6 separate regions of the Homo sapiens genome follow, and regions 1, 3, 4, 5 and 6 are each reported to be linked to region 2. Evidence: microRNA targets listed by miRTarBase, many of them from high-throughput screens and not tested one by one. Region 2 holds a microRNA gene; each other region holds the end of a gene's coding sequence.
The links. The annotated mature microRNA hsa-miR-1302 reads UUGGGACAUACUUAUGCUAAA and lies in region 2 at 1,933-1,953, opposite strand. An mRNA with a match to its seed (bases 2 to 7 or 8) in the 3' UTR can be bound and repressed. Matches are read on the target gene's strand: a 7mer-m8 pairs with bases 2 to 8, a 7mer-A1 pairs with bases 2 to 7 and ends in A, and an 8mer does both.

Region 1 (5,073 bases), not on the chromosome of region 2:
GCTGGGATTACAGGCATCCACCACCATGCCCCCCTAATTTTTGTATTTTTAGTAGAGACGGGGTTTCACCATGTTGATCAGGCTGGTCTCAAACTCCTGACCTCAGGTGATCCACCCGCCTCAGCCTCCCAAAGTGCTGGGATTACAGGTGTGAACCACCGTACCCGGCTATCAATTATTTTTTTGAAACAGATTTTGTCTCTGTTGTCCGGGCTGGAGTGCAGTGGCGCAGTCTCAGCGCACTACAACCTCCACCTCTCAGGTTCAAGTGATTTTCCTGCCTCAGCCTCCTGAGTAGCTGGGACCACAGGCATGTGTCACCACGCCCGGCTAATTTTTGTATTTGTGGTAGAGACAGGGTTTCGCTATGTTGGCCAGGCCGGTCTTGAAATTCCCTGGATGACCTATTAAACAGTCATCCCACCCTCCCTTTCGCTGCCTTCTAAAGGTGCTCAAATTTCTTGATGGCATTTGTCACTTACCAGTCATTGTACTTTTGCTAATTATTGTCTGTTCCTCCTTCCAAGATGGAATGCAAGCTCAGCAAGGCAAGGGCAGGGACTTAGTTTCACTCTGTGCTGTAAATCAGTGCCCGACGCGTGGTAAGTGCTCAAATATTTGCTGAATGAATGAATGAAGGATGGTGGTTCTTCCCTCAGGCTCAGAAGCGGAATCAGAAAGCCACACCAAACAGTCCTCGGACCCCTCTTCCACCAGGTGCTCCCTCCCCAGAATCAAAGAAGAACCAGAAAAAGCAGTATCAGTTGCCCAGTTTCCCAGAACCCAAATCATCCACTCAAGCCCCAGAATCCCAGGAGAGCCAAGAGGAGCTCCATTATGCCACGCTCAACTTCCCAGGCGTCAGACCCAGGCCTGAGGCCCGGATGCCCAAGGGCACCCAGGCGGATTATGCAGAAGTCAAGTTCCAATGAGGGTCTCTTAGGCTTTAGGACTGGGACTTCGGCTAGGGAGGAAGGTAGAGTAAGAGGTTGAAGATAACAGAGTGCAAAGTTTCCTTCTCTCCCTCTCTCTCTCTCTTTCTCTCTCTCTCTCTCTTTCTCTCTCTTTTAAAAAAACATCTGGCCAGGGCACAGTGGCTCACGCCTGTAATCCCAGCACTTTGGGAGGTTGAGGTGGGCAGATCGCCTGAGGTCGGGAGTTCGAGACCAGCCTGGCCAACTTGGTGAAACCCCGTCTCTACTAAAAATACAAAAATTAGCTGGGCATGGTGGCAGGCGCCTGTAATCCTACCTACTTGGGAAGCTGAGGCAGGAGAATCACTTGAACCTGGGAGACGGAGGTTGCAGTGAGCCAAGATCACACCATTGCACGCCAGCCTGGGCAACAAAGCGAGACTCCATCTCAAAAAAAAAATCCTCCAAATGGGTTGGGTGTCTGTAATCCCAGCACTTTGGGAGGCTAAGGTGGGTGGATTGCTTGAGCCCAGGAGTTCGAGACCAGCCTGGGCAACATGGTGAAACCCCATCTCTACAAAAAATACAAAACATAGCTGGGCTTGGTGGTGTGTGCCTGTAGTCCCAGCTGTCAGACATTTAAACCAGAGCAACTCCATCTGGAATAGGAGCTGAATAAAATGAGGCTGAGACCTACTGGGCTGCATTCTCAGACAGTGGAGGCATTCTAAGTCACAGGATGAGACAGGAGGTCCGTACAAGATACAGGTCATAAAGACTTTGCTGATAAAACAGATTGCAGTAAAGAAGCCAACCAAATCCCACCAAAACCAAGTTGGCCACGAGAGTGACCTCTGGTCGTCCTCACTGCTACACTCCTGACAGCACCATGACAGTTTACAAATGCCATGGCAACATCAGGAAGTTACCCGATATGTCCCAAAAGGGGGAGGAATGAATAATCCACCCCTTGTTTAGCAAATAAGCAAGAAATAACCATAAAAGTGGGCAACCAGCAGCTCTAGGCGCTGCTCTTGTCTATGGAGTAGCCATTCTTTTGTTCCTTTACTTTCTTAATAAACTTGCTTTCACCTTACCGCCTCGTCTTGAATTATTTCTTGTGTGAGATCCAAGAACCCTCTCTTGGGGGGTCTAGATCAGGACCCCTTTCTTGTAACACAGCTACTTGGGAGGCAGACGCAGGAGGATCACTTGAACCCAGGAAGCAGAGGCTGTGGTGAGCCAAGATCACACCACTGCACTCCAGCCTGAGCAACAGAGTGAGACCCTGTCTCGAAAAAATAAAAATCCTCCATGGATAGGCCATCTCATCCCAGACCTGGGCATTCGGAACAGCCTGACAAATCTGTCCTGAATGGCCTTCTCTGAATATGGTGTTCTGAGAAGGCAGGCAAAGATTTGCCTTTGACACACCCCAGCTCCAGTCCAGAGGACTGCGCAGTTTCATGGGTTCTCAGAGATGGGAGGGTCTTTAAAGATGACTAGATACAGCCAGGCGCAGTGGCTCACGCCTGTAATCCCAGCACTTTGGGAGGCTGAGGCTGATGGATCGCTTGAGGCCAGGAGTTTGAGACCAGCCTGGCCAACATGGTAAAACCCCGTCTCTACTAAAAATACAAAAATTAGCTGGGCGTGGTGGTGCGCAACTGTAGTCCCAGCTACTCGGGAGGCTGAGGCAGATTTGCTTGAACCCAGGAGGCCGAGGTTGCAGTGAGCTGAGATGGCGCCACTGCACTCCAGCCTGTGCAACAGAGCGAGACTCTGTTTAAAAAAAAAAAAAAGACTAGATAGGCTCCTCAGTCACCTCCAGCCTGCTGCCTATTTTCATACCACCTGCAAGCTAGAAATGTTTTTACATTTAAATGCTTGGGGAAAAAGTCCGAAGAAGAAGACTCTTCTGGGGCCCCTGGGAAGGAGATGAAATTCAAATTTCAGTGTGGTGCCCAACCATGCTCATTCCTTTACACATTGCAGTTATTTTCATGCAGAGTTGAGTCACTAGCCTGCAAAGCCTAAAATATTTACCATCTGATCCTTTACAGAAGTTGGCTAGATCTTAATCTACATAAACTCATTTGTTTTCACAGAAGAGGAAGCGAGCGCAGAGGTCCATAAAGAGTTCAAGAGTAGCCGTGGGAAAAATGACTAGGTCTGTGACTACAGGAAGGTTTTCAGGGTGAGGATTGGAAGGGCAGGAGACTGCATGTGGATGGGGTGCTAATGCGCTCTCAGACCCACAAATCTAAAGAAGTGCAAACGCATGCGGGGATGGAGGTTGGAATGCTTTGGAAATGGAACAATGACAAACTTACAACATGCTAAGAATCACACAGTGGCTCACGCCTGTAATCCCAACACTTTGGGAGGCTGAGGTGGGCGGATCACCTGATGTCAGGAGTTCAAGACCAGCCTGGCCAACATGGTGAAACCCCGTCTCACCTAAAAAAATACAAAAATTAGCCAGGTGTGGTGGCGGGCACCTGTAATCCCAGCTCCTCGGGAGGCTGAGGCAGGAGAATTGCTTGAACCTGGGAGATGGAGGTTGCAGAAGCCGAGATCATGCCACTGCATTCCAGCCTGGGCAATAGAGTGGGACTCCGTCTCAAAAGAAAAGAAATAGAGCAAAGGAGAGCACTTTGCTGGCCATCTCCTCTGCTGACCTCTGCTCCTCCATAGCCACCCAAGGGGCCTTTCTTCGGTAGTTATTGCATCGTTGGTGACATGGCAAGGTGGCCCTCTCTGGTGTGTTTTGTTTCCTGGCTGTGCTAAACACTCCAGATACTGAAAAATAAAAAATTAAAAACTGAGCTGGACACGGTGGCTCACGCCTGTAATCCAGCACTTTGTGAGGCCGAGGCAGGCGGATCACTTGAGCTCAGGAGTTCGAGACCAGTCTGAGCAACAGAGCGAGAGCCTGTCTCTACTAAAAATACAAAAATTAGCCAGGTGTGGTGGCAGGTGCCTGTATTCCTCAGCTATTCAGGATCCTGAGGCATGAGAATCGCTTGAACCTGGGAGGCAGAGGCTGCAGTGAGCTGAGATCGCGTCACTGCACTCTAGCCTGGGTGACACAGCGAGACTATGTCTCAAAAACAAAGAAAAAACCTGAATTAGCTGCAAGGACCAAAGTTGGCCACCAGACGTCGGTATACCCAGGATGATAGGACTATAGACTCATGGTGTGGAATGGGATCACCCAATGCAGCCACCTCATTTTACAGAAGGACTTCAGAGAGGGACAAGGTCTTGCATGTCACACAGCTGAACTCCAGAGCTGGGATTCAAACTCAGGCCCAGGATGGGTGAGCACTGCTGGTTACACAGTCTCCTTTAAGCTTAGAGTGGGAAGGATGCTGCAAGGGCTTGAGAAAAAGGGAACTCCCTACAAGCTGCACAAAGACTGAGACTCTGCTTCCTTCCTTCTACCACCAAATTCTGCCATGAGAGCAACCCTTGAAGATCTGTTTGACCTGGGAAATTACAAGATTGCATTGCTAAGGCACCAGGTTTGACTAGGTGTCAGTAACTTTGAAATGTGTGTGTTAAGGTCCTGACTTCTGCAATAGTGACTTGGGACTTGGAGGGAGGGCATTGTTATCCAGTACTCTTGGGGAAAGGCAATGTTGTGCAAATGAAAACAAACAAACAAACAAACAAAAACACCAGGCTTGGAGTCAGAAAACCCAAGGGGAACTTTCCGTATTGCCAAATATTCTTTTTCTTTTTTTTTTTTTTTTTTTGAGACAGTCTCGCTGTCGCCCAGGCTGGAGTGCAGTGGTGCAATCTTGGCTCACTGCAAGCTCCGCCTCCCGGGTTCATGCCATTCTCCTGCCTCAGCCTCCCGAGTAGCTGGGATTACAGGTGCCTGCCACCGCGCCCAGCTAATTTTTTGTATTTTTAGTAGAGACGGGGTCTCACTGTGTTAGCCAGGATGGTCTTGATCTCCTGACCTTGTTATCCGCCCGCCTCGGCCTCCCAAAGTGCTGGGATTACAGGCATGAGCCACTGCGCCTGGCCCCCAAATATTCTTTTTAACCAGTCAACTGGGACATTAACTGCAGGAAGTATGAATATAAAATAGTTATATGTTTTCTGATCACTGAGTCAATCATGTTTTTTTGTTTGTTTGCTTGTTTGG
Region 2 (5,073 bases):
CGGAGGGAAGTGGTTTTCAGGAGAGAGGAGTCTGTTCCCAGAACTGTAGCACAAAAGCTAGAGGCTGAGTAGGAACATCTTAAACTAAGTCCTCAGTCTTATTTCCAGTTTTCTTCCTGTAGATCGGGGCTTAGGACACCCTGTCACATTTTCTTCACTCCTCCACCAGGAATTCCTAAAGTCCATGCTCTTGGATCCTGGCAAATCCAGGAGGCTGGGGGATGTGGCAAGCTTCAGCAAGACTGCCTGGGACCAACCCTGCAGCCTTAATTCCCAGGCCCGCTCAGCCCAGCTGGCCAGCAAAGGCAGGCAGAGCTTCTGTGTCCACACATGAGAATGACCTGCAGCTGTTCTTTGTCCAGGCTGAGGTCCAGGATTCCCATTGCAGCTCCTAGGAAATCTTTAAAATTAGGTCGGGGATGAGCCTGTCAGTAGATTAGGTAGGGAACTTTTATGAAGTTGAGGGTGAACCATCTGGAGGGTGAACTGGCTGGTGTGATTCTAGAACTGGGGGTGGTGCCTAGCAGTGCATTTGTGAGAAGACACAGCCAGGCTTGGTATATGATGTGGTGTGTGTGTATATTCACAGGCATCGTGGAGCATATACACTTTTTTTGTGTGTGTTGAAATAAACCTTACAGATTACAAAGTACTTTTTTTTTTTTTTCTGAGACAGGGTCTCTCTCTGTCGCCCAGCCTGGAGTGCAGTGGTACAATCATAGCTCACTGCAGCCTCGATCTCCCAAGCTCAAGTGATCCTCCCGCCTCAGCCTCCCATGTAGCTGGGACTACAGGTGTGTGACACCATGACTGGCTATTTTATTTTATTTTTGTAGAGATGGAATCTCACAATATTGCCCAGGCTGATCTCAAACTCTTGGGCTCAAGCAGTCCTCTCGCGTCAGCCTACCAAAGTGCTAGGATTACAGGCATGAGCCACCACGCCCAGCCAGATTACAAAATACTTTGACATCTTTTCTCTACAGCCCTCAAAAGGAGGCAGGGCAAGCACAATTAAATCCCATTACAAATGGGGTGACTGAAGCTCCATTCATGGCTTGCCCAGGGTCACACAAAGAATGAATAGCAGATCCCTGAGCCTGTGTGCTTCCCTCTGTGCCAGGCTGCTTTACCCAGGCATGGGTGCACGTTGTGCATGGGACATTTCTCCTTTGTTGTGTCCTGAGTACCTTAAGCCACTCAGATATTGCTCAGGTGGAGTGAGGGGAAAATGTTTTCAGGTTGTATTAGTCAAAACAAAATACCACACACTGGGCGACTTTAAAATCATACATTTATCCCTCACAGTTCTGGAGGCTTGGAAGTCCAAGTTCAAGGTGGCAGCTGGACAGGTTCCTGGTGAGGGCTCTCTTCCTGGTTTGCAGACAGCCACCTTCTCTTCGCATCCTCACTTGGTGGGAAAAGACAGAGGAGAGAAAGAGAGAGAGAGAAAAATGAGATAGAGAGAGAGAGAGAAATGAGATAGAGAGAAATGAGAGAGAGAGAGAGAGAGAGAGAGAGAGGGAGACACAGAGACAATGCTCTCTTTTCTTACCAGATCTATAATGAGGGCCCCACCCCATGACCTCATCTAACCGTAATTACCTACCAAAGGCCCATCTCCACATACCATCACATTAGGGGTTAGGGTTTCAACATAAGCATTTGGAGAGGACATAAACATTCTGTCTACAACATGAGTGGAGATCCATCTCTTCTTTACCTCTGGTAAGGGGACCACACGCTGCAGCCAGCGAGACAGTGGCATGTTCTTGTTACAACTCGATCTAACTCCCCCAGAAGAGGAGGCAGGGAAGGCGGACAAAACTGGGAGAGGGAGAGAGTGTTAGGAAGAGAGTAGGGTGGCCAGAGGCAGCAAATAAAATATAAAATGCTTAATTCTGAATCTCAGATAAACAACCAATAATGTTTTTTAGCATAAGTATGTCCCAAACTAAGCTTGGGACATATTTATGCTACGAAATTATTCGTTGTTTATCTAAAATTCAAACTAGCTGGGCATCCTGTCTTTTAATCTGGCAACCCTAAAAGGCAAGGGCCAAAAATGCCGGAGGCAAGCCAACGGATTCCAGGAGGGACAACTGCTGGACTTTGGACTGATGATGCTCTTTTTATATATTTAACTTTTTAAAAAAGCCTCTTTTCTTTCTTTTTACCAGCTTTTCACTAGCTTTTTAAAAATTGTGGTAAAACATACATAACCTAAAATTCACCGTCTAAACCATTTTTCAGCATACAGTTCAGTGGGATTAAGTAGATTCACACCGTTGTGCCGCCATCACTACCACTCATTTCCAGCACCCTTCCATCACCCCAGCCTGAAACTCTACCCATTGAACACGAGCTGCCCAACTCCGCCTTGCTTCCCCATTCCTGGCGACCACTGCTTCTGTCTCTGTGAATTTTGACTATTCTAGGCACTTCACAAAACTGGACTCATACGATATCTGTAGTTTTGCGTCTGGCTTCTCTATTGAATTCTTAAAGGGGGGTGGGAACTAAGCAGATCACAAGGGAGCTGCCCACAGAGGTAAAGACAAGGTCAGGTAGGCTGAGAGACGCAGGAAAGCGGGTCAAGGCGTAGGGCTGGAGGGCAGGGGCGGGCCCTGGGCGTGGGCTGGGGGTCCTGCCCCGGGGCGCACCCCGGGCGAGGGCTGCCCGGAGGAGCCGAGGTTGGCGGACAGCTTGGCCCTGAGCTTGAGGGGAAGGCAGCGATGGGACAAAGGACGGAGGTCTAGGAAGAGGGTCTGCAGAGCAGAAAGCACGGGTAGGGGCGGCCTGACGCTCGGAAGACAACGGATGGGAGCCGTGTGCACGTCGGGAGCTCGGAGTGAGCGTGAGTTCCGTGCCCAGGCCCGCGACTCGGCCCGACAGGACAGCGCTCCGGGTCGACGGGGTCCTGGAGCCGCGCTCGGGGAGGCGTCTTGGGCTCGCCCCGGAGCTTCCTCCCTGGAGCCGCGCCCTGCACCCGGCCTTGCCCGGCCCTAGCAGGGAAGCCAAGGCTTGTGGGGCGCAGGGACCCGGGCTCTGCGGGGTCCCGGTTCCGCCTCCCCACTCCTGCGTCTTCCCGCCCCTGCCGGGTTCTGGGAAGCCTCGCGCGGCTCTTCCGCAGCTGCTGCCCGCCCGGAGCTCCTGGTCCCTCGTAGGGGACCCCACTTCTCTGACACCGCTTTGGGTTCCCGGGGCCTACAGCGAGGCTTGTAACTCCGGGAGAGACCCTGGAGCGGGGTGTGGGAGAACGGTCTGGAGGAAGGGCTCCGAGCACTTCGAAAGTATAAACCGCGGTCCCAAAGAGGCGTGCTGTGTCTGCATTTTCCTGGGAGTGCACGGTTTACATTCTCGAAAGCAGTGCTGTCGACTAGAAATATTGAGCGATACACATGTACAAGTTTTGTCACTTAAAAAGAATTTGAAAAAACTTCATAGATGCAAAAAAAAAAAAAAACCCACCATTATTAAAGAATACTTAGGTATTTGTGGAATGCATTGAAGAGTTAACAAAATGGATAGGCAGGAAATATCGCAGACCTAGAATGAATTACAGTTACCCACTGTGGAACTGAGGAGCTAGGGTTTCTCATAAAACTCCCTGATAGAAGACGACTTTTGATAAAATTTTTTTTCCGCCAACAAAATCCCCTGTCTTCTCAACTAGTTACTGTCTGTCCACTAAATAAGAGGTGGTCCGTCACTTCTTCAGATGAGCAACTACAGGCTTTTCAAAAGATAATTGCTAATCAACCCCTTTGTGCCTGGGTTTTCTTATTTGTAAAAATAGATACTACTACCTAACTCCAAAGTGTGTGGTGAAGACAAACAATTGGGGTGATGTATACTAAAGTAACGAAAGTGTTGACCACACACTACGGGCTGGTTAGTGTTAGATTCCCTTGTTTTTCCCTCAGTATCAAAAACAGATCTAATTTAGGTTTACATAAAGACAAAGTATGAAGATAAGGTGACTTACAGTTGGTACTACTAACAAAATGTTTGGGCTAATATTTGCATTATTGCATGAAAACAACAAAACATATCAATAAATAACAAAAAGCTTGGAATTCAGACGACAGATCCAAGTCTGGGCTTGATCTCAAGCTAGTGTTTTGATGTTGAAAAAATGTTATTTGGTCTTTCTAACCCCATTTCCTTATGTAAAATAGGGGATGATGATAAATTCACTGATAATAAGAGTTAAATGAGATTCTTGAGGAGTCAGAATGGTTCTAACATGTGTAGGTATTATTAGCAGTCATACTGTAGCATAAGAAAATACCGTCTGCTGAAAGAGGGACAATAAAGATTATCTACATGGTCATCATTTAAAAGCTACCAGATATAGGAAGAAGGGGCCATAAAATGATAACGTTATGATGATTAATTTTGATGCTTAGGTCAGAGTCCATTCTAGGATATCTGCTGCCCAAAAACAGCAGAGACTCATTTCTTTGGAATCACAGGACGCTGAGTGAGAGGAAAGAAAAAGAAAAGAAATATTTAAGTCACATATGTGATTTCTAAAAGTAAAAAGAAACAGATGAAATTAGTGATATATTTTTAAAATCCAGTATATCCCAAATATGGTTATTTTAGCATGTAATCAATATAAAATAATAAGATATTTTACATTCTTTTTTTCTAGCCTTTGAAATTTGGTGCATATTTTACACTTATGGCACATCTCAATTCAGACTATCCACATTTCAAGTGCTCAGTGGCTGCATGTGCCTGGTGGCTACCATATTGGACAGCACAGGTCTAAGGATTTCATTCCTGCCACAAGTCCAAACTCCTAGCTTTAATTTTGAGTGTTTTTAACAAACTGGCCTCTGTTTATCATTCTTTCTTCTAGTACTTCCCCAAGGATGATTGTACCCTCAGCACTCAAGACCGCTTGCGGTTCCCCTACACACTTTTTGTTCAAGCTGTTTCTTTTACCTGGAATGCTGTCTTTGCACCTTCTTCCTGGACCTGGTTCACCCTCGTTGCCTAGGCTGGAGTGCCATGGCGCGATCTTGGCACACTGCAACCTCCACCTTCCCGGTTCAAGTGATT
Region 3 (5,073 bases), not on the chromosome of region 2:
CTGTCTCTTCCCCAGTGTATGTGCTTGGCACCTTTGTCAAAAATGAGTTCACTGTAGGTGTGTGGATTTGTTTCTGCATTCTCTATTCTGTTCCATTGGTGCTGTGGCCCCTTGGGCAACTGCCATGGCAACAATGGCATCTGCTTTCCTCTCCAGCTTGATGCACGTGCAAGTTCAGCTGCCCGGGGCTATTCCACTCTACCAGTTTCTTGAGTGAAGATGGGGACATAATGGGCAGGGGCCAAGCTGCCAGCTTCCTGACCAGTTTATCTGGCCCTTGATGAAGTGGAAAGTGTTGCTCTGATTCCCTCCTTGGCACCTGGTGGGTAGCTAATATTCAGACCCTGCTACCAACTGGCTCACGAGTGATTTTCTCCCCAGAAAGCATTGCATTGGTTGCCAGCCCCAAGCCACTTTCTCAGACATTTTTCCCTATTGACTGCAGCTTCATGCAATGGAGTCCCCGTGCCCGTCTCTGAGTTCTACTGTTTGCCTGCCCTGTTGATGGCCCTGATTGCTGACTCCTCTCCATCACTGGGTGAGGGCCATAAGCTATTGAAGTTCCCTGGATCTCCATAGCCCCAGCCCTATCCCCTGTGTTATCTCCATGCCAGACTGCCCTGGGCTTTTTTTCATCACTGCCCCCCACCCCCCCAGGCCTTGAGCAAGGAACTCGGAAGCTTTGTTACGAATAGATGTAAAGCTCCTGGCTGTCATTGCCATCATCTTTGCCTATACCAGTATGTTCTGCTCCATCCACACCACTGGGGCCCACTTGCATGGTGCCATCCCCCCATGAAGTCTCCATTGCAACATGCTTCTTCATTGTCTTCACTGACAATGGGCAGATGCTGGCTGCTCATCTTTGTCCTGATGGGAGAAGAACCCACCCACTCCTCACTATCTTGGAGCTGGAGATCCCAGATGAGAGGACCAAGTTCTCCCTATGGAGTCTCACTGGCAGGAAAGACATGGGGCAGGCGGGGGGCTGCCATATTTTGATGTCTGCTATGTGCAAGGCACTGTGCAACCTGCAACCACGTTCACAACTATTGGCTCATTTAACCTTGACAACAACCTTACAAGATATAAATGATTCTTACCCTTATTTTCTGAGAGGGAAATCAGAAATGTTAAATGTGCCACTTAAGGTCACACAGCCAGGAAATGATATAGCTAGATTTGAGCCTGGGTCTGACCACCATCTACCCTCAGCCACTCTGGCAACAGGGCACTGGAGACTAGGAAACAATAATCAAAGCTCACAGGCAGATTGTTAGATTTCTATGCAGGATTCCCCTGCAGCCTGGCTTCTTTGAGGCAGTGGGTGAGGGAAAGCACAAGAGTAGACTATGGGCAGCAGGGCTGGGAATTTGAAGGCATGTTCTCTGGCACCAGGGAAATGAAGCCTACTTGGGGTGAGCAGAGGTACAAGACTCAGGGCTAGAAATGGCCAGGGGTGGTGCTTGCTTTGTGGGTGGGAATGAGAGGCCTGGGCAACCTCATCATGAAACTCATTCCTACATCTAGAGGCACAGTAGAGTAGGCAGAGATGAGGGATGGGAGCTCTGCTTCACACAGGATGATGTTAAGGCCCAACAGAAGCTCTCCTACTTGGAGCTACCTCTTCCATAATGCCAGACACTGGGCTACTGGGTCAGGGTAGCAGAGTCCAGAGCTGCAAGGTTGGGGGAACTCTCTGGCCCTTCCAAGAGCCTCCCTCCTCTTTATCCATCTCCTAGCAACCATCATCTGAGTGCTGAGTCCCATCCTCTGTACCCTACCACCAACCTCCTTCCAAAAGAAGGTGGGCAGTGCTTGGGCCAGAAAGCCCCAATGCCTTCCTTAAGAACTACTGGCCAGAAAATCACACTGGTGTCCCTTAAGCCCAGCACCACCAGAGTGATCTCCCAGCCCATACTCACACACAAGGCACCTCCATTTAGTTTTCCCAAAGGCAAGGGGCTGACTGGGTCCTCTGCTCTACCTCACTCACTTCCAGGGCTAGCCAAGACCCCTAGGTGACAGCAGTGAAGAAAGGCCAAGGCATGTAGGGACAACTGAACCCAAGAGAGAATGGAAGGAGGTGATAGAGCAGCGGGACTGGACAGGCACCTCACTGTTCAGGCCGGGTCGGAGTGCAGACTTGGGTGGTGCAACCTGAACACTTACTGAGACAGGCTTGTGGAGAGGTATGACTGGCCTCGTTTGACCCATGAGGAGGTTGAGGTACCCAGAGAGCAGGGCTTCCCTGCCCAGGCTACTGACAGCACTTCAGGGATGCAAACGTCCAAAGCCTGGACTTTCTCTCTAGCTGCTCTTCGGAGCCTGGGAATTTTATGGCCATATAACATGATAGAGGAAAGCCCCTTCCTTCGGGGAAGTCAAGATGAGAGGGTCTCTCTAGCCCCCTGGGCTTTGCTGGTCACTGGAGCCAGACCAGAGGCTGCCTTAAGGCACTCCGACCTCTTAGGTTGGCTTACAGGTGGCACAGGGCCCCCTAAGCCTCCTGGGGCTGGGACTTCACTCTTCATTCAAGCTGTTTAGAAGGGGAAGGAATGGCCGCTTAGCCAGGCTCACCTCTCCCTAGGATGCCTGAGGTCATGCTTGTGGCCAGGTCATGAGATGGGGTTTGCAGCTTCTGCCCAAGTTCCGGCTAACTTTCCACCCCTTCTCTGCCCCACCCCCCCACCACCATGTCTGGCTGCAAATCCCTCTCCAAAGAGAAGAGCTGAGGCCCTCCCCATTCCTCTTGTGGACTCACCCAAGTCCTGCTGCCGGTAAGCTAGGACTCAGCAGAGGGTGGGGTGAATGCTTAATGCTCTGAGCCCTAACACTGAAGCCTCAGTCACAACCCCAGTCCCCAGTCCCTAGCCCATTGTCAGCAAAGACAGCCACACAGTTAAAGTGCATCTCTGGTAATGCTTTATTGATTTGAGGGATCCTGCTGCACCTGGCTCCCTACCTCTCCATTCTCATCTGAAGTGCCCCTCAGGCCTTCCAGACACTTGCCCCCACCAGAGATTATAATACACTCATGAGAATTGATATATGTGTGTGTCTGTGCAAATGCGTGTGTGTATATATATGTATGTGTATATATATACACACATATATATGTGTGTGTATCTCTATAAACACATATACACACACACACACACACACATATATATATATATATATATATATTAGCTGTACAGTATTTACAGGTACAAATAAAATAGGCTTGAAAATTACAGTGGTGGTTGGGACCCATCTCATTTCAGTTTACTCAGCAGATAGAAAAATAAAGCACCAGTGGCCTTTGAATGGCATTTGAATTTCCATGTGAGCAAAGATGGCTGGCCAGTGGGACAGAACAGGTTTGGCTTAAGCTCCAGCTGGCTAAGATAGGCCCTTCCATCTGGCTGGCCCAGGGGCCAGGTCTCTGCTTGAGAAAGGGGCTGTTATGTTAGCCCACTACCATAAGCAAAAGGGATGATGACATAGACCCTTGTCTCTTAACCACACTCTGCTTTTGCTTGGCCTGGGCAGTGTCAGTGCGTGGCCAAAGGCTACACAGGACCCCATGGGGTGGTCGATAAAGTGTGAAACCCAAGTCAGGGAATACTGGTTTCACTGGCATCTCGAGACTTGAGAAAGGAAGGTACTCCACTCTCACATCCCTATCTATGCCAAATCGTCATGTCACATATTAGGGGCCCGTCAGTGCCCACTCTTAACTCAGCCTCATAAAATTCAGCATCGTATTTACACAAATGAAACAGCTCGTGGTGACTGGGGCTGCCCTGCGCTCCACCCCTGTGCCCATTCACTCCAGTCCAATTCCTCTGAAAAAGACACTTCAGAGCCAGCGTTGGCCCCAAAGGCAGGACCAGAACCTCCTGTCCAACCTCAAAAGCATCCTTGCAGCAAACAAGACGGCTTGCCCTCTCAGTCTGGCAGAGAGCTGGGATCACACATTGCTGTCGACCTCTTTGCCCCTGCAGGCGGGGAGCTGTGGAGGCTTCATGCCAAGTGGCGGCCTCACAAGCAGGTGGCTGGTGGCAGCAGTCTTGCTACTCATGCGATTCTCTTCTCTTTTCGGGAGAGTAGAATACAGGGTTGGGGGTGAAGGGGGAGTGGAGTTGCCTAAATTCTCTTTTTCTCCCCTCTATGTGCAGAGGAGCTTTAGGAAAGGGGACAGGACAGGCAGCTGGAGCCACCTGGGCCTGGCTCTGCTCCTGACAGCGGCACCCAGGGGGCTGCCCTGCTCTTATTCCCCCTCGCTCCCTTGGTGCCCAGGGGGCCTGGGTGGTGCCACCCTGGGACCAGCCCAAGGCTCACAGCTTTGTCTCAGGGCCCGCTGCCTGCAGGGTGGGGAAGGAGTCCCGGATCTTTGCCACTTCCATGGCACACAGGTGTCCAAAGACTTTGTTGTACCAGTCAGGAGAACGGCCCCTAGGGAAGCAGAAGAAACCAGGCATGAGCAATGGATTTTTCCCCAGAGCCCTCACCAGGGAGAAGGAAGAAAGGACTTGTCCCCAGCCCCAGGGATCAATAGCATGGGGCAGAAAGTAGGGGCAGAGGCAGGGGAGGGGGTCAAGGCCAAGGGGGTCGAGCAGGCTGTCCCAGGCCTGATACCTGAGGTCAGCCCGGCAGATGTGTGTGAGCCGAGAGCGGCCCAAGCCGCAAGGCTCCATGAGGTACTGGGATGTGAGCATGAGGGCTCGCACACCCGACTCTGGCACAGGTTGTTCCGGATCCAGGGACTGGGAGACAAGCAGGCAACCCCCACGAGGCAGGTCAGAGCGCCACATCCTATTGGAGAAGGGACACGTAGGCTCAGATTCCTAGTGCTGGTTTCCACCCCACTTCTCCGGCCCCCCAAGCACAGAAGGGTAGCAGCTGCAGCCCCTCACCGAAGCACCACAAAGTCGCGGCAGGGATGGGGTGCCATGCTGTCGGTGACATAGTGGTACAGCTCCACACCCGGCATCAGGGCTTCCAGCACCTGGGCCCGCAGCAGATCCTCATCCCAGAGGGCCCGCTCCCGGAGAACACGATGCAGCACCACAGCTGGGGGGGCTGCCA
Region 4 (5,073 bases), not on the chromosome of region 2:
AAGCCCATCGTTAACGTTCCCTGGGAGAGAAGCAGAAGATAGCATTATTCCTATTTCCATATGCAGAGATAAGGTCCTGAGAACTTGTGTGGCTCCCCCCGGATTCCAGAACAGGTCTTTGAGAACTCGTCTCATGATCCACTGGAAACAGACCCGTTCCCCTAGCGTGGCAGTGGCTGCTCCGCTGAACTCGTGCCAAGTTCCCGCTGGCGTCCGGGCAGCAGGGCGGGAGCGGCGGCTGGCACGGAGACTCCAGGCTGACCGCGTGTCTATGTCCCCGCAGGGAATGGAGAGGCCGGCGGCCCGGGAGCCGCATGGGCCCGACGCGCTGCGGCGCTTCCAGGGACTGCTGCTGGACCGCCGAGGCCGGCTGCACGGCCAGGTGCTGCGCCTGCGCGAGGTGGCCCGGCGCCTGGAGCGCCTGCGCAGGCGCTCCCTCGTAGCCAACGTGGCCGGCAGCTCGCTGAGCGCAACGGGCGCCCTCGCCGCCATCGTGGGGCTCTCGCTCAGCCCGGTCACCCTGGGGACCTCGCTGCTGGTGTCGGCCGTGGGGCTGGGGGTGGCCACAGCCGGAGGGGCCGTCACCATCACGTCCGATCTCTCGCTGATCTTCTGCAACTCCCGGGAGCTGCGGAGGGTGCAGGAGATCGCGGCCACCTGCCAGGACCAGATGCGAGAGATCCTGAGCTGCCTCGAGTTTTTCTGCCGCTGGCAGGGCTGCGGGGACCGCCAGCTGCTGCAGTGCGGGAGGAACGCCTCCATCGCCCTGTACAATTCTGTCTACTTCATCGTCTTCTTTGGCTCACGTGGCTTCCTCATCCCCAGGCGGGCGGAGGGGGACACCAAGGTTAGCCAGGCCGTGCTGAAGGCCAAGATTCAGAAACTGGCCGAGAGCCTGGAGTCCTGCACCGGGGCTCTGGACGAACTCAGCGAGCAGCTGGAGTCTCGGGTTCAGCTCTGCACCAAGTCCAGTCGTGGCCACGACCTCAAGATCTCTGCTGACCAGCGTGCAGGGCTGTTTTTCTGAGAACATCCTTTCCCCCTAATGACCGAGGCCAGCAAATCATCCTCATGGGATGCTCCAGAATTTGTAGCTCCCTTAGGAAAACACCAAGCTGGGTTAGGAGCCGAAGGCAAAGGATGAGAAAAACTGTTTTTGAAGTGGGCAGGTCCCCAAAGCCCTTCTTTTCCCATCACTGTGACATCTGCCTGGGCTTGAGTGCTACGGACTTTTCAGTCTTCCTAGTGGAAAAATGTGACCCAAAAACTCTTTTTCCTTTATCAAAAACTTTCTGTCTAAACACAGCTGGGCAGGCACTCCTGTTTTAAAGTTATTTCGGGGTCCCTGACCCTGCCCTGGTGGCTTGGCCTGAGACTGGAGAGAGTGCCATCCTCTGGGTCCTCTCCAAGTCCTACTAGTCTTTGAAGTCCTCAAAATGTGCGTGAGGAAGGCGTTTGCCTCTATTCCAGAATTTCTGATACAAAGAACTCCAGAATCCAGAGCAAATCAGCCCTTCTCTGAACGTTGTAGGATGGTTCAGAACCCAGAGAGGACCCTGGTGCTGATATCTCCTCCTCTTCCCTTTCCCCTCAGCTTACTTACTCCCAGATGCGGCCTGGGTATGAAGTAGGCCTTTCCTGAGTGGCTCCCAATCCAGTCCTCCAAGTACTCAGAGGGGAAGCCCGTGAAGCCGTCATCTAAGTCCTGCTCCCTCACATGAAGCTGAGGGCCAGATAGATGGAGCGACTGCCAACTTCATTTCCCGACATCATTGTGTTCAGAAGAGAGTGATGGGTTTTGAGTTAGACAGTCCTGGGCTTGAGACAGGCTTTGTCACTACTGTGTGAGTGTAGCCACCTAATCTCTCTGAGACTGTGTAAAACAAAGATGATAAAATCTCACCCTGTTGTGAGATATTAAATGAGCCAAAGTGCCTAGCATGATGGTGCTGGCTCATATAGTGTAGTCCCTGGAATGGCAAATTAACATCACCCAGGAACTTGTTAGAAAGGCAAATTCTTGGACACAACCCTCCTGATTTATGGAATCAGAAACTCTGGCTGTGGGGCCCAGCAACCTGAGTTTAAACAATTTCTCTGGGTGGTTCTGCGGCACACTAAGGTTTGAAAATCACTGCAACAAATGCTAACTTCTAATCCCCTTGATGAGCTTTCACGAAGTCTCACGGCTTCTCTAGGGACTCCATGGTCTTCAGAGTCGTTCACAGATGACCAAGGACAGACTGTGTCCCAGAAGCCAAAATGAGAGAGAGAGAGAGAGAGCACGCGTACGTGCACCCTGGGGCAGTGTCTCACCGTATGAACAAGGGATGTAACACTAAAAGCCCATTAGGGGGCAGTGTTTCCCGCCTGTTGTAGAAACTGGTACAGAAAGGAATATGAAGTTCCTGAAACTGACCTTTGTCTATTATTACCTTCTCTGAAAAGTGCCAGTCCATGTATTTTTTATTTATTTTAAGTTTGTAATTTAATTTTTAATTATTGTTTAGTGTTTGCATTTAATTTTATTTAATCACCACATTTAGAAAATAATAAGAGCAAGTTTCTAAATGGGAGACTGCTGAGGCTCTTTGCAAGAGATGAGATTAAGTTTGAGTTTCTAAGGCAGGGCATGAGCTGGAAATAGCATTGCTTTCCTTGATTGTCTCTCTCCTTCAGGGAGATTCTTTTTCTCTAGTGTTTTAAGTGATCCTTTGAAGTAAGTGTGGAGAGTCTTGAATGGCAAGACCAGGAGCTGAGTTTAAGCTTGTAATGGAAGCTTGCATTGTGGGATATATAACTGAGGAAGCATATTTATCCTGAAGGTATTTTGCCAGAAGGTATCACTTGACCTGGAAAAGGAATCTATTTAGTTCAGGAAAGATAAAAAGTTTAGAGGTATGTGAAGGAAGCACTTAGAACTTGCAAGCCTGATGTCCTATCAAGTTATGTCTTCTGGGTGACAGACAAAATCGCTTGTCTTATGGTGGTGATGTGTTGCATTTTCACTTTGGGGTCTGTAAGAAACTGTCAGTGAAAATATGTACAATTCCTTCAATTTCCATTCTTAACAACTGTAATGTTGAAAAATAAGTTGAAAAGTCTTTGGGACCATACATGCAAAAACGGTGCCTCTGTTACTTAATTATTTAATATTCTATAAATGTACCCAATCTGTCCGCACCCTTCCCAGTGATGGGGCAGTATGTCTGAGGAAGTATAATTTCAGTACTGGGGTCGGGGAGAGGAGGTGATGTTTCTACATTTTTATTTTTTCTATAAATTGCAATTGGTCTGTATGCTGGTTTATTTTGAAATTTATATTGGTTTCTTTTCAAGCTGGTGTCATCTCCTAGACTGTTTCACCCAGATGCTAGCATTTTTTTTTTTTTTTTGAGACAGAGTCTCACTCTGTCACCTAGGCTGGAGTTGCAGTGGTTTGATCTCGGCTCACTGCAACCTCCGACTCCTGGGTTCAAGCAATTCTTCTGCCTCAGCCTCCTGAGTAGCTGGGATTACAGATGTGCACCAGCACACCCGGCTAATTTTTTGTATTTTTAGTAGAGACAGGGTTTCGCCATGTTGGCCAGGCTGGTCTTGAACTCCTGGCCTTATGTGATCCGCCCACCTTGGCTTCCCAAAGTGCTGGGATTACAGGCATGAGCCACCTCGCCTGGCCAGATGCTAGCATTTTAGATCAAACAATTCATTTTAGATGAATTGTTTTGTTTCACAATCATTTTAAATCATTTTAGAATGTACTTCACATTATTAGTTGTGTTATGGCATAAAGGTACAACCATTCCCTAACTCCATCTTTTATTAATGCTTAAGTTTAAATTATATTCTTCCAATGCCTAAGCTATTCCCTAGAATTAAACTGGGCACTTTTGGAAGCAGCAACAGTAACAGCAGCAGCAAACTTTTCCTCTCATATTTTGGGTGTATCAAAAGTTCTAGACTTTTGAAGTTATGATTTCAGTGGCCCACTTTATTTCTAAGGAAGAGTGTCTACTTTGGAACGATACTTTGCACATAGTAGGAACTCAAGAAATACATTTGAATAATTATAATTAACTGTTTAGCTATCTTAATGAGAATTTGTTGACAACAAAAGATCATCCATCGCCTTATGTGTGAGTAAGATTGGAGCCTCTATCAAGATTTAGTCAAGTTCAGTTAGATTGATTCTAGAAACAAATATTTATTTCTTTCTTTTACGGGGATGTGAATAAGGCTTTTCCTTAAGGCCTTCATTCTTTAAACAAACAGGTTGAAATGGTATGTTGTAAAAGAGAAGACGGGAGAGAGGTATTTAGATGATAAGTGTACTTCACAAAAATGCCAAAGTTTGAAAAATAGGTATGTTTGTTCTAAATGTTTAAGTGCTTCTCTGTTAGGTTCTGGGGCTTGCAATCATTTGAATTGTTCTGTTTCACAATAAAGGAGATTCACTGGGTTCTGCATTTTCAGGATTCAATAGAACTGCTCCATTAAAAAAATAATCCTTAGCAAGCATTCGAATCCTAACTGCTTTGATGCACTTGCCCTCGGGCACCTGTCATTTCCAATATGGTAGGTGTCAAAGTCAAAAGTATTTACTGGGAGAAAAAAGAGAGGAGTGGTTGTAGAAGTCTCCCTAAATCAGACATGTCAAGCAATCAGCCAACGTGGTGTATTTCTCATTCAATATTTTAGTGTGAATTGAGACACTGAGATAAAGACATCGTGCAGAGATAAATGGGGATACAGTTAAATGTAGCAACTCTTGAGTTCATTTTTTCCCACTGTAGCAAAATTAATGCTTTCTCTTTATTGAAATAAATTGCTCATTCCTCAAATTTTTTTATCTTTCTGTAATTAATTTCCTAGTTCTATGTTTCCTTGTGTATGAATTAGTAACTTTGAAAAAGGGCAGATGTTTAATCATTTTCACTTAGAATATTCAGATCAAACTATATGAATCATTTTTTTTTAATAATCAATGCATACACAGGAATTCCCTTTTGCCTAGAAATCAGACTTCCAGCAGTCTCAAAACCTTTGAACATAATTACAACCTGGGAAGGAATT
Region 5 (5,073 bases), not on the chromosome of region 2:
ACTCTATAAAAACTCCTAATTTGATGTGCTTCTGGATTGGTGAACAACTCGACATACTGGGTGGGTAGCATGCCCAGAGACTTGATGGAAACTCTGCAGCCCCTCCCCACCTTGCCGTATGCATCTCTTCCATGTGGTTCCTCAGTTGTATCCTTTATTTAAAAAAAAAAACAAAACAAAAAACAAACAAAAAACAGTAATAGTAAAAAGCTTTCTTGGGTTCTGTGAGTCATTCCATCAAATTATCAGACCTGAGGAGGCAGTAGTGGGAACCCTGAAATTTGTAGTCAAGTGGGATAGAAGTGTGCAGGTAGCCTGGGACCAGGGAATTGCAACTGGCTTCTGAAGTAAGGACAGTCTTCTCCAAAGCTAACTTCAGATAGTGTCAGAATAGGATTGAGTTGTACACCCAGTTGGTGTCCTAAGAAAGGGTACCCCACATTTGGTGTTAGAAGTAACGTCAGAAAGCATCACACAATTGTATGTATTCTTTTCTCTGGGGTCAGATCACAAGCTCTTTGAAGGTAAGACTATCCTGTCCTCTGCAGTACCTATCATAGTGATATGTGCATGGTAGGTGCTAAGAGCAGTAAATTTTGCTCCTGTGAAAGTGGTTCCTGTATTTTAAGATTATGCCGTTGGATACAGGTATTCTGTCAAGCAGTAGAAGTAGAGTTTATTCTATACAAGAACAGTTTTTCTCTTCAATATATAGAGATTCGGAACATATTGTTTTGGAAGTTTTAAGTGTGCAGTTCAGCAGTCTTCAGTGTATTTACAGTTGTGCAACCATCAACCACAGTCAATTTGAGAACATTTTCATCATCTGAAAAAGAAACCCTGTACCCATTAGCCATCATTTCCTATTTTTCTCATAGTCCCCCAGCCCTAGGCAGCCACCAAGCTATGGATTTGCCTGTTTTGGACCCCTGTTTTTTTTAGACGAAGTCTTGCCCCCCAGGCTGGAGTGCAGTGGTGTGATCTTGGCTCACTGCAACCTCCGCCTCCTGGGTTCAAGCGATTCTCCTGCCTTAGCCTCCCAAATAGCTGGGATTACAGGCGCCTGTCACCACGCCTGGCTAATTTTTATATTTTTAGTAGAGACAGCGTTTCACCATGTTGGCCAGGCTGGTCTCGAACTCCTGACCTCAGGTGATACGCCTGCCTTGGCCTCCCAAAATGCTGGGATTACAGGCGTGTGCCACCACACCTGGCCTGGACACCTTATATAAATAAAATCCTAAAGTATGTGACAGCTTTTTTTTTTTTTTTTTTTTTTTTTTTTTTTTTTTTTTTTGGCACACAGTCTTGCTTTGCCACCCAGGCTGGAGTGCAGTGGTGCAATCTTGGCTCACTACAACCACCACCTCCCAGGTTCAATCAATTCTTATGCCTCAGCCTCCCAAGTAGCTGGGACCACAGGGGTGCACCCCCACACATGGCTGATTTTTGTATTTGTAGTAGAGATGCAGTTTCGCCTTGTTGGTCAGGCTAGTCTCAAACTCATGACCTCAAGTGATCTGTCTGCCTCAGCCTCCCAAGTGCTGGGATTACAGGTATGAGCCACCACACCTGGCCTGACTGGCTTTTTTATGCCAAATAATATTCCATCATATGGATTGGATATACCGTGTATCCATTTTAGTAGTTGATGGATATTTGGGTTGTTTTTACTTTTTGGCTATTATTAATAATGTCTGGTTAGGCTGGGCACAATGGCTTACTCCTATAATCCTAGCACTTTGAGAGGCCGAGGTGGGCAGATCACCTGAGATCAGGAGTTCGAGACCAGCCTGGCCAACATGGTGAAACCCCATCTCTATTAAAAATACAAAAATTAGCCAGGCGTAGTGGCATGTGCCTGTAATCCTAGCTACTCTGGAGGCTGAGGCAGGAGAATTGCTTGAACCTGGGAGGCATAGGTTGCAGTGAGCCGAGATGGTGCCACTGCACTCCAGCCTGGGAGACAGAGCAAGGCTCCATCTCAAAAGGAAAGAAAAATAATAATGCCTGGTTAAAGAACTCAAGAATGTTGGCTATCAAGACAAATAGTATCCACACTGCAGTTTTGTGGGAATGTCCTAATCAGGCGTCTGGGGATCAGCTGCTTATTTTTATTGGAACATGATCATGCTAATTAATATTTCATTACCCATTATAGGTTGTCTCCGGATACTTTCATCCAAGAGTTGAATAGTTGTAACACAGATTGTGTGGCCCAAAAGCTATAAAGTATTTACTCTCTGGCTTCCTGGCCTAATCTGTTGTTGAAACCTTGAGTTTTAGAAGAAGTCTTCATGTTTAAATTCTTTTTCTTGTTTTTGGGCAGGCAGAGAACATTTATAATGATGAAGACCCTGAAGGAAGCGTGGATCCAGAAGGACAAGGGTCCTAGATATGTCTTTACTTGTTGTGATTTTAGACTCCCCTTTTTTCTTCTCAACCCTGAGAGTGATTTAACACTGGTTTTGAGACAGACTTTATTCAGCTATCCCTCTATATAATAGGTACCACCGATAATGCTATTAGCCCAAACCGTGGGTGTTTTCTAAATATTAATAGGGGGGCTTGATTCAACAAAGCCACAGACTTAACGTTGAAATTTTCTTCAGGAATTTTCTAGTAACCCAGGTCTAAAGTAGCTACAGAAAGGGGAATATTATGTGTGATTATTTTTCTTCTTATGCTATATCCCCAAGTTTTTCAGACTCATTTAAGTAAAGGCTAGAGTGAGTAAGGAATAGAGCCAAATGAGGTAGGTGTCTGAGCCATGAAGTATAAATACTGAAAGATGTCACTTTTATTCAGGAAATAGGGGGAGATTCAAGTCATATAGATTCCTACTCGAAAATCTTGACACCTGACTTTCCAGGATGCACATTTTCATACGTAGACCAGTTTCCTCTTGGTTTCTTCAGTTAAGTCAAAACAACACGTTCCTCTTTCCCCATATATTCATATATTTTTGCTCGTTAGTGTATTTCTTGAGCTGTTTTCATGTTGTTTATTTCCTGTCTGTGAAATGGTGTTTTTTTTTTTGTTGTTGGTTTTTTTTTTTTTTTTTTTAACTTGGGACCACCAAGTTGTAAAGATGTATGTTTTTACCTGACAGTTATACCACAGGTAGACTGTCAAGTTGAGAAGAGTGAATCAATAACTTGTATTTGTTTTAAAAATTAAATTAATCCTTGATAAGAGTTGCTTTTTTTTTTTAGGAGTTAGTCCTTGACCACTAGTTTGATGCCATCTCCATTTTGGGTGACCTGTTTCACCAGCAGGCCTGTTACTCTCCATGACTAACTGTGTAAGTGCTTAAAATGGAATAAATTGCTTTTCTACATAACCCCATGCTGATGGGTTTTATTTAGTATAAAACATCCATCAAACACCAGTCTCTGGCTTCTAGAAGAGTCCTTCAGATGACAGTTGTTGTCCATGGTCTTTGACTATCAAGAGCAGAATTAAATGTAATAGTCCCAGAGCTGTAGAAAAGAACTTTACTCCTTCCCAGGGAAAGTGAAAGACATAAAACACTGAATCAGAGGTGGCACAGATTAGTCTTTGATAAGGTAACGTTTCTTTGAAGTCTATCTGTAGAGAACTACATGGACTTCCAAGAGTGTCAAAGGCAGTGTGGTAGAGAGAATTTAAGGCAAGATTTAAATTTGGAAAAGGTGCTTGAACCTTTTCTCAGAGGTTTTATTTCCCCAGTATGTTTTTCACTGGGGCCTTTACTTAGGTTAGAAATAATAGGCTTTGAAGGCCTCTATCACCAGATGCAATAACCAGATAAAATTCCTGTTTTTTCCCAATCGCTTAGTTTTTTGTTGTTGTTGTTTTTTAACTGAGTAGATCATTCTGACCCAGAACTACTTTCATGAGGTAAGATCTTTGGGAAAATCTGAATAGCGTTAACCATTAGATTCAAATCTCAAATGGTTTCTTTTCAAGTCTAGTTGTTTTAGAGTATAGTGAGAAATACCTTGACACAATTTTAAGAGTAAACTATATGGGTCAGCATATCCTTGAACAAAAAGTAGACTTTGTAAAAGTATTCATTTAAATTCTAACACTCGTGGCACAAAAGAATGGAAATTGTAAACCCATGTAATGGAAATTGGCTATCTTTTTGACCCCACATGTGCCCCTCAAAAATGTTTTTGGTTTGGGTCAACACAAGGCAAGATACATTCTTTAAAATACTCCCAGATGTGTCCATACATTCATCCTTCACTCAGTGCATATGTGAGGGTTGTTGCTGGAAGACAGGAGGCTCATCTTTCCTTTCCTTGGTGCATTGAGATCAGTATCAACAGCAGATGAAATAGAATCCAGCAAAGAGTTGACATGTTCTGCCTCCGGCCAACTCTAGAATCTTTTTAAGCAGGTCAGCCAGTATTTGCAACTTCCACAGGATGAATTGCTTGCCAAGTTTCTGGCACTCTTGTCTGGTTGGAAGAGTACATCCAAAGGGTACTTAGTGATCCTTTGCTAAGAAGTTTTTTGCTGTTTCCGGGTTACAGATTTGGCCATATATTTCTAAACAGCCCCTGTAAAGTTGAAAGAAAAAGTTTATAACAGTGAACTTCTGAGGTTTAGTTACTGCAGGCTTTGTTGAGAAGAGATTGTTACAGTGTGATTTATGGATGATCAGGGATGACTTTCCCCTAGCAAATATTTGGATGCCTCCTGTTTGTCAAATAGAATGAATGGTGATGGTGATGGGAGGGATAGTTAAACGTTTTCTCTGCTAGGTTAACTTCTTACAGGTATAATTACAATGCCTGAAATTCTGTAGTTTCATTTCTTTGGATTAGTCGTTGTCTTTTCCAGATTGTACACAATCTGATCAACACAAAGGTAGTTAGTAGATCATTAACCTCAATTGCAAGGTTATAATTTCTCAAACATTAAGCATATTATCAGTCATGTGGATTCAAACACAGTATAAGAAAATCCTCAAGGCTGGGTGTGATGGCTTATGCCTGTAATCCCAGCTACTTAGCAGGCTGAGGCAGGAGTATTGTTTGAACCCAGGAGGCAGAGTTGCAGTGAGCCAAGATCGTGCCACTA
Region 6 (5,070 bases), not on the chromosome of region 2:
AGGAGTAGAAGTGACAGAGAAAGGAACAGATCAGTGATCTTACCTTATACCCTTCCACTATCTGAATTGTTGAAAGAACCTAGATTGCTTTTCTAACCCACTGAAATAAGCAACCAAAGGCAAAAAAGTAATAATCCCAACTGTGGAAATGATTTCACTTTTCTGCCCTGTTAATAAGAAAGGATCATGCTGGTGAGAAACGGAAGTTACTCTTAGCTGCATGAGTTTTCAAGTTTAATCTGGTTAATGTTACTTAGGGTGTTTAAGATAAGAGTCCTACTTAATAATAGTGTATTTCACACTTCAACATTGTTAAGAGAGTAAATATCAAATGTTCTCACCACAAAAAATGATGGCTCTTTGAGATGATGAATATGTTAATTAGTTTGATTTAATTATTCCACATAGCAGTCATAAATCACAACACTGCTTTGTACTCCAAAATACATACCATTATAAATTGTCAACTTACAGTTTTTATTTTTTAAAGACAAGAGTCCTGATCATTCTCAGTTGAAAGGTATCTAATGACACTAATGATAAGGAACATCGTTTTTGTCTTTATTACTTTTTTCCAGTATAAGGATTTTGGCCAAATGGGACTTAGACTGGAGGCTGAATTTGAGAAGGATTTCAAGGAAGTGTTTGCTATTCAGGAAACAAATGGGAACAGTTGACTGGTTTAGTGGATGCTGAAGGCCTTCAGGAAATATGCTACTGGTTGCCACTGACTTCAAACTGAGAGCACTTGGGAAATAGCACATGCAGGGAGAGGCTTTTCTCTGAGCCTCCCTCATCTGCCCAAAAACAAATCCTCAAAAGAAATTTGATCATCATGAATCCCATCCCCAAGAATCTCATCAACCAGGGAAGAGGAACTGAGATCACAGGGAAGGAGATTGGAGGTGATACCAGCACAGACAGACTCTCACCTCTTCTCCTGAGGTCTGCTCCAGACAACATTTATTACTCACAAGACCTTTTTCCTCCGTTTTTTTTTTGAGATGGAGTCTCACACAGTCACCCGGGATTGGAATGCAATGGCGCGATCTCAGCTCACTGCAACCTCTGCCTCCCGGATTCAAGTGATTCTCCTGTCTCAGCCTCCCAAGTAGCTGGGATTACAGTGCCTGCCACCATGCCCAGCTAATTTTTTGCATTTTTAGTAGAGACGGGGTTTCACTATGTTGGCCAGGCTGGTCTCGAACTCCTGACCTCATGAGCCGCCCGCCTTGGCCTCCCAAAGTGCTGGGACGTGACAGGAGTGAGCCACCACACCTGGCCACTCGCAAGACCTTTTATCTGAAAACCAGCCAAGCTTTATTCACGACACACTTCTTCCCTTCACTCTCCCACTTCTGTGGTCAACTCCCTGCAGAACTCCCAAACTGCCGTTCTTTTCGATAGCTCACGATGGTGTATGAGTGTCAATCATCTGACCCTTCTTGGAGTCTCATATTTCGTGGAACTCCTGTGCAAACATATATTATTAAATTTTTTTTCCTCCTGTCAATCTACTTATGTCAATTTAATTCATTCGTAGCTCAGCCAAAGAACCTAGCAGGGTAGAGGGAAGCCATTTTTCCCTCCCCTGCAAAGCGGTTGGCATCCTGGCACCATCTCCTCTTCTGACCAGGTCTTTTCATCCCCAGCTGCTGAGTGGTGGCTGCTGATGCCAGCAGTCCCCAGAGTATTACCCTTCGTTAAATGGAATCAGCTTCACCTGGAAGTGACGCCCCGTGGCCTGAGGCCGGCCCCTTTGCCTCAAAGCAGGACCAAGGGTGTGGTGTGTGGCTACTCTGTGCTCCCAGGTATCAGGCTGGAGCTAGTCTCCAGCTGTGGCCACATCGTGGCTTAGCTTTTGCCCACATGATGAGCTTCCCCCACTCCCTTCTGAGCAAACCCTCACCATCAATCTCTTGCTTAATGGACTTCATCCCAGAATGTGCTTCTGGGGAATGCAACCTAAAGTAATGGCCCCAGGAAGCGAGCTCTGAGGACAGGATTCTGGAGTTGGATCACTGTCTAGCCCAGTGATGCTGGGTGGAATATGGATAGTCCCAGAAGTGCTATCACTGAGCAGTTGCCCAAATTTTCACCTGTAGTAAATTGGATGAGCTGCAGGTCAAGCTATTTTAGTACAGCTATGTACTAAAATAGCTGGTACAATTGTCTGGCATTTAAGAAGTGAGGAAAAGTAACTATAAGAAATATGGGTTTTGGTGGGTATTACTAAGTGCCATTAATGTCTTGAAAAGAGTAAATGACAGGCTTAGATCTATTCATTACCAACCTAAAGAGAAGAGACCCTCATACCTGGAGCTGGAAGGCAGACAGCAAGGAAGGTCTGGTACAGACCTGATTTTATGAATCGCAGAACTTCAGAGAACACTGAATTCTAAGCTCAGGATGGTCTCTTATGCCAAAGTCAAGGCCTTCAAACTCAGCATGGGGCTATCTAGGTAGATGTACATGAGAACTTTGAACTCCAGATGCCCCCTGAACCTACTGGGTTTGCAGAAAAGTCTTTCTGCCCCTTGTTGGAAGAGAGAGCTACCACCCCCACCCAACTCCCGATTTTTCTAGAATGAAGACTGTATAGAGACCGCTCAGGACAATGAAAGTGAACAATCATGGGGAGGGCAGCAAATGAAGAGAGCATTTATCCTCCGAAGGAGCTGTAGGACTGGCCAGCGTGCATCAGCAGGAGCAAGGAGATTGTGTCTGGGAGTGGATCCTGGTCCAGGAAGGGTGAAATGTGAAACCAGATAAGTGACGATTATTGGCAAAGGGGCAAGCTTCTCTACCACAGAGTTTAACTAGCCTGGCTTGGGCCAAAGGTGATGATTCTGATATACTCCTGGGTGGCTCCTAGAGACTAAGTATAAGCCATGGTACACATTAAATCAAGTGGAAGCAGAGATACCAGAACTACTGTGGCAGAGTCTGGAAAAGTGGGTCCCAAGGATAGAGAAGTTGGTGTGCTAGAATGACTCTGCACTCTACAACTGGAGAATCCATCCATCAGGTGACTGAGTTCCTCCAAAGGGGACACTACTAATGTGTCTCAGACACTAACTAAGGTGAGAAGGAATGCACTGTTGAGGGGGCAGCACATCCTTAAGAAGCTCAATGGTGGCTGTCCCCTGCAGGCTGGAATAATGCTAGGGATGTTTTATAGAACTGGATCCCCCAGTAGTGAGTAAAATGATAGAGTTCCAGAATAACAGGGGCCAAGTGGCAGCATTTAACTGTGAGGACAAGATAAAGTAATTTCCGTAAGGGGCATCAACGTTAGAGTGACAACTGGGAGGCCTGACCTGTAGGTGTCCATGAAGATGGCTCTTAGGACATGCTGTTCCTCTAGGCAAGACACATATTGCTTTAGACATATAATCAAAAGAGATTGAAAATAGATGAGCAGAAGGCTGAGGTCAGCTATCTAAAGGTAAAGTCTTAGACCCCTTGCCCAGCTTCCAAACCTCAGCCAGTTCTCAGTGGAATCCAGAACTCACTGATGGAAATGAGGGCAGTTTCTCATAAGGAAGAACCTTGTAAGTGTGCGCATCACTGATTCCCTCAAGTTTTCACGGGAGGGCTCTATGGCCAAATTTTTTGAGTTACTCACATGCCGGGGAAAGGAAAATACACAGATCTTTCAAGGGATGTTGAGTACAATATCACAGTTGATGCTAATCCCTGAGGACTCAAAGCCCTTTCGTAGCCCCTGTTAGAGTAGAGTACGTGGAGGTGAGGTAATGTCCATCTCACAATGGGCCCTCTGGATCCACAGGCCACCCAGCAATCATTTCCCCATTTCCTGAATGTATAATCAGGATATACATTCATACATACATCATAAAATATAGCAATTGGCTGACCTGGTTCCTTAACCTCTGGTTTCCTAACCTATGAAATAACAATGACTGTTTTAGGGAAGGCCAAGCAGAAGCCTCTGAAACTGAAGTTTCATGGTGAAAACAAGTAAGTTAAAAGCAATATCACATTCTTGGGGAATGATAGAGATTAGTGCCACCTACAAAGACATGGAGGAGGCAGGGGTTGTTACCCCAGTTACACCTCCATTTTAATTCAGCAGTCTGCCCTCTGGTATCTCCTGGTGGTTCATGCTGCTAAATGGCTCCTAAAACTTAACCAAGGAGTAGCCCCTATTACAGTTGCTGTGTCAAACGTGGTATCTTTATTATAACGGGTTAGCACAGCCTTAGCAAGTGATATGCAACTATTAATACGGAAATGCCACTTTTAAAGGATCCGGCAGGATGTAGGTTGAGAGGAAATTCACATTCTCAAGGATTGGACAAGAGTATATCTTTACAGTCTTGCTCCAGGGCAAGGTGAATCCTGCTCTGTGTTACAATATAGGCTTTCTGGACACTCTGCAATACATTACATTGGTCAACTGTATTGATGACAGTATGTTCATGAGCCTGATAAGCGAGAAATGTTGACTATTCTGAATGACTTAGTAAGTCATAAACACTGCAGATGGTGGGAGAAAAACGTTACAAAGATACAGAGATATGCCATATAGGTAAGCTTTCAGGGGTTCAATGGTCTGGAACGTGTCAGAGCATCCCCTCCAAAGCTCCAAGCTGTTGCACTTCATACCTCCTGCCACTAAGAAACCCAGAGCTTGGTGGTCCTCTCCAAGTGAGGAGAATCACCGTGGTTGACATTCTGATGAAAGTGATTCTAGGCTTTGTAATGTGGTTGTGTGTTTGGGAGGCAGGGAGTGGGGAGGCAGTGGGTATACCATCTTCATAAATAAAAATGTGCTAATCAATGTTTTTCACTTAACAATATAAGATGGACATTGTCACATCAGTAAATACAGCTCTACATCATCTGTGCCTTACCTTTCATTTATCCTCAAAACTGGATGACAGTTGGCTCTTTGATTATTTTTGGTCTGGTAAGCATAGTAATTTGTACTGAGGGGCAGCACAGACTAGCATTCAGTAGCACAGCCTCTGTAAGTGGAAGCCCAGTTCCTGCACTTCTCCACTTGCTGACGGTGTGTCCTTGGGCAACCTACTCATCCTTCCC

Region 1: the mRNA of SIGLEC10 is a reported target of hsa-miR-1302. Seed matches in the 3' UTR shown: 8mer at 1,850-1,857.
Region 3: miRTarBase lists STARD8 as a target of hsa-miR-1302. Seed matches in the 3' UTR shown: 7mer-m8 at 3,350-3,356 and 7mer-A1 at 3,246-3,252.
Region 4: miRTarBase lists APOLD1 as a target of hsa-miR-1302. Seed matches in the 3' UTR shown: 7mer-m8 at 2,247-2,253.
Region 5: miRTarBase lists SYNC as a target of hsa-miR-1302. Seed matches in the 3' UTR shown: 7mer-A1 at 3,070-3,076.
Region 6: the mRNA of SP140L is a reported target of hsa-miR-1302. The part of its 3' UTR that is shown has no 7-base or 8-base seed match.

What each region holds. Positions count from the first base shown.
Region 1 is chr19:51,406,958-51,412,030 of GRCh38, reverse strand. It overlaps SIGLEC10 (sialic acid binding Ig like lectin 10), which reads left to right. Exons shown (of 11, transcript NM_033130.5): 11 at 660-2,011. The coding sequence ends at 932. Among named protein-coding and RNA genes, the nearest start is that of SIGLEC10-AS1, 6.2 kb to the left of the region's middle. RefSeq lists enhancers at 2,581-3,081, 4,099-4,148.
Region 2 is chr9:27,096-32,168 of GRCh38, reverse strand. MIR1302-9 (microRNA 1302-9) reads right to left here and starts at 2,025; the gene lies at 1,888-2,025. It overlaps WASHC1 (WASH complex subunit 1), which reads left to right and starts at 2,713. Exons shown (of 11, transcript NM_001378090.1): 1 at 2,713-2,857. MIR1302-9HG (MIR1302-9 host gene) reads right to left here and starts at 2,510. Exons shown (of 3, transcript NR_197460.1): 1 at 2,287-2,510; 2 at 1,724-1,827; 3 at 1,278-1,411.
Region 3 is chrX:68,723,672-68,728,744 of GRCh38, reverse strand. It overlaps STARD8 (StAR related lipid transfer domain containing 8), which reads right to left. Exons shown (of 15, transcript NM_001142503.3): 13 at 4,902-5,073; 14 at 4,624-4,800; 15 at 2,909-4,440. The coding sequence ends at 4,323. Among named protein-coding and RNA genes, the nearest start is that of STARD8, 79 kb to the right of the region's middle.
Region 4 is chr12:12,786,626-12,791,698 of GRCh38, forward strand. It overlaps APOLD1 (apolipoprotein L domain containing 1), which reads left to right. Exons shown (of 2, transcript NM_030817.3): 2 at 284-4,841. The coding sequence ends at 1,027. Among named protein-coding and RNA genes, the nearest start is that of APOLD1, 3.5 kb to the left of the region's middle. RefSeq lists silencers at 321-420, 451-560.
Region 5 is chr1:32,677,311-32,682,383 of GRCh38, forward strand. SYNC (syncoilin, intermediate filament protein) reads right to left here. Exons shown (of 5, transcript NM_030786.3): 5 at 2,596-4,550. The coding sequence ends at 4,540. RBBP4 (RB binding protein 4, chromatin remodeling factor) reads left to right here. Exons shown (of 12, transcript NM_005610.3): 12 at 2,330-5,073. The coding sequence ends at 2,395. Among named protein-coding and RNA genes, the nearest start is that of SYNC, 23 kb to the right of the region's middle.
Region 6 is chr2:230,402,220-230,407,289 of GRCh38, forward strand. It overlaps SP140L (SP140 nuclear body protein like), which reads left to right. Exons shown (of 19, transcript NM_138402.6): 19 at 579-1,513. The coding sequence ends at 677. Among named protein-coding and RNA genes, the nearest start is that of SP100, 11 kb to the right of the region's middle.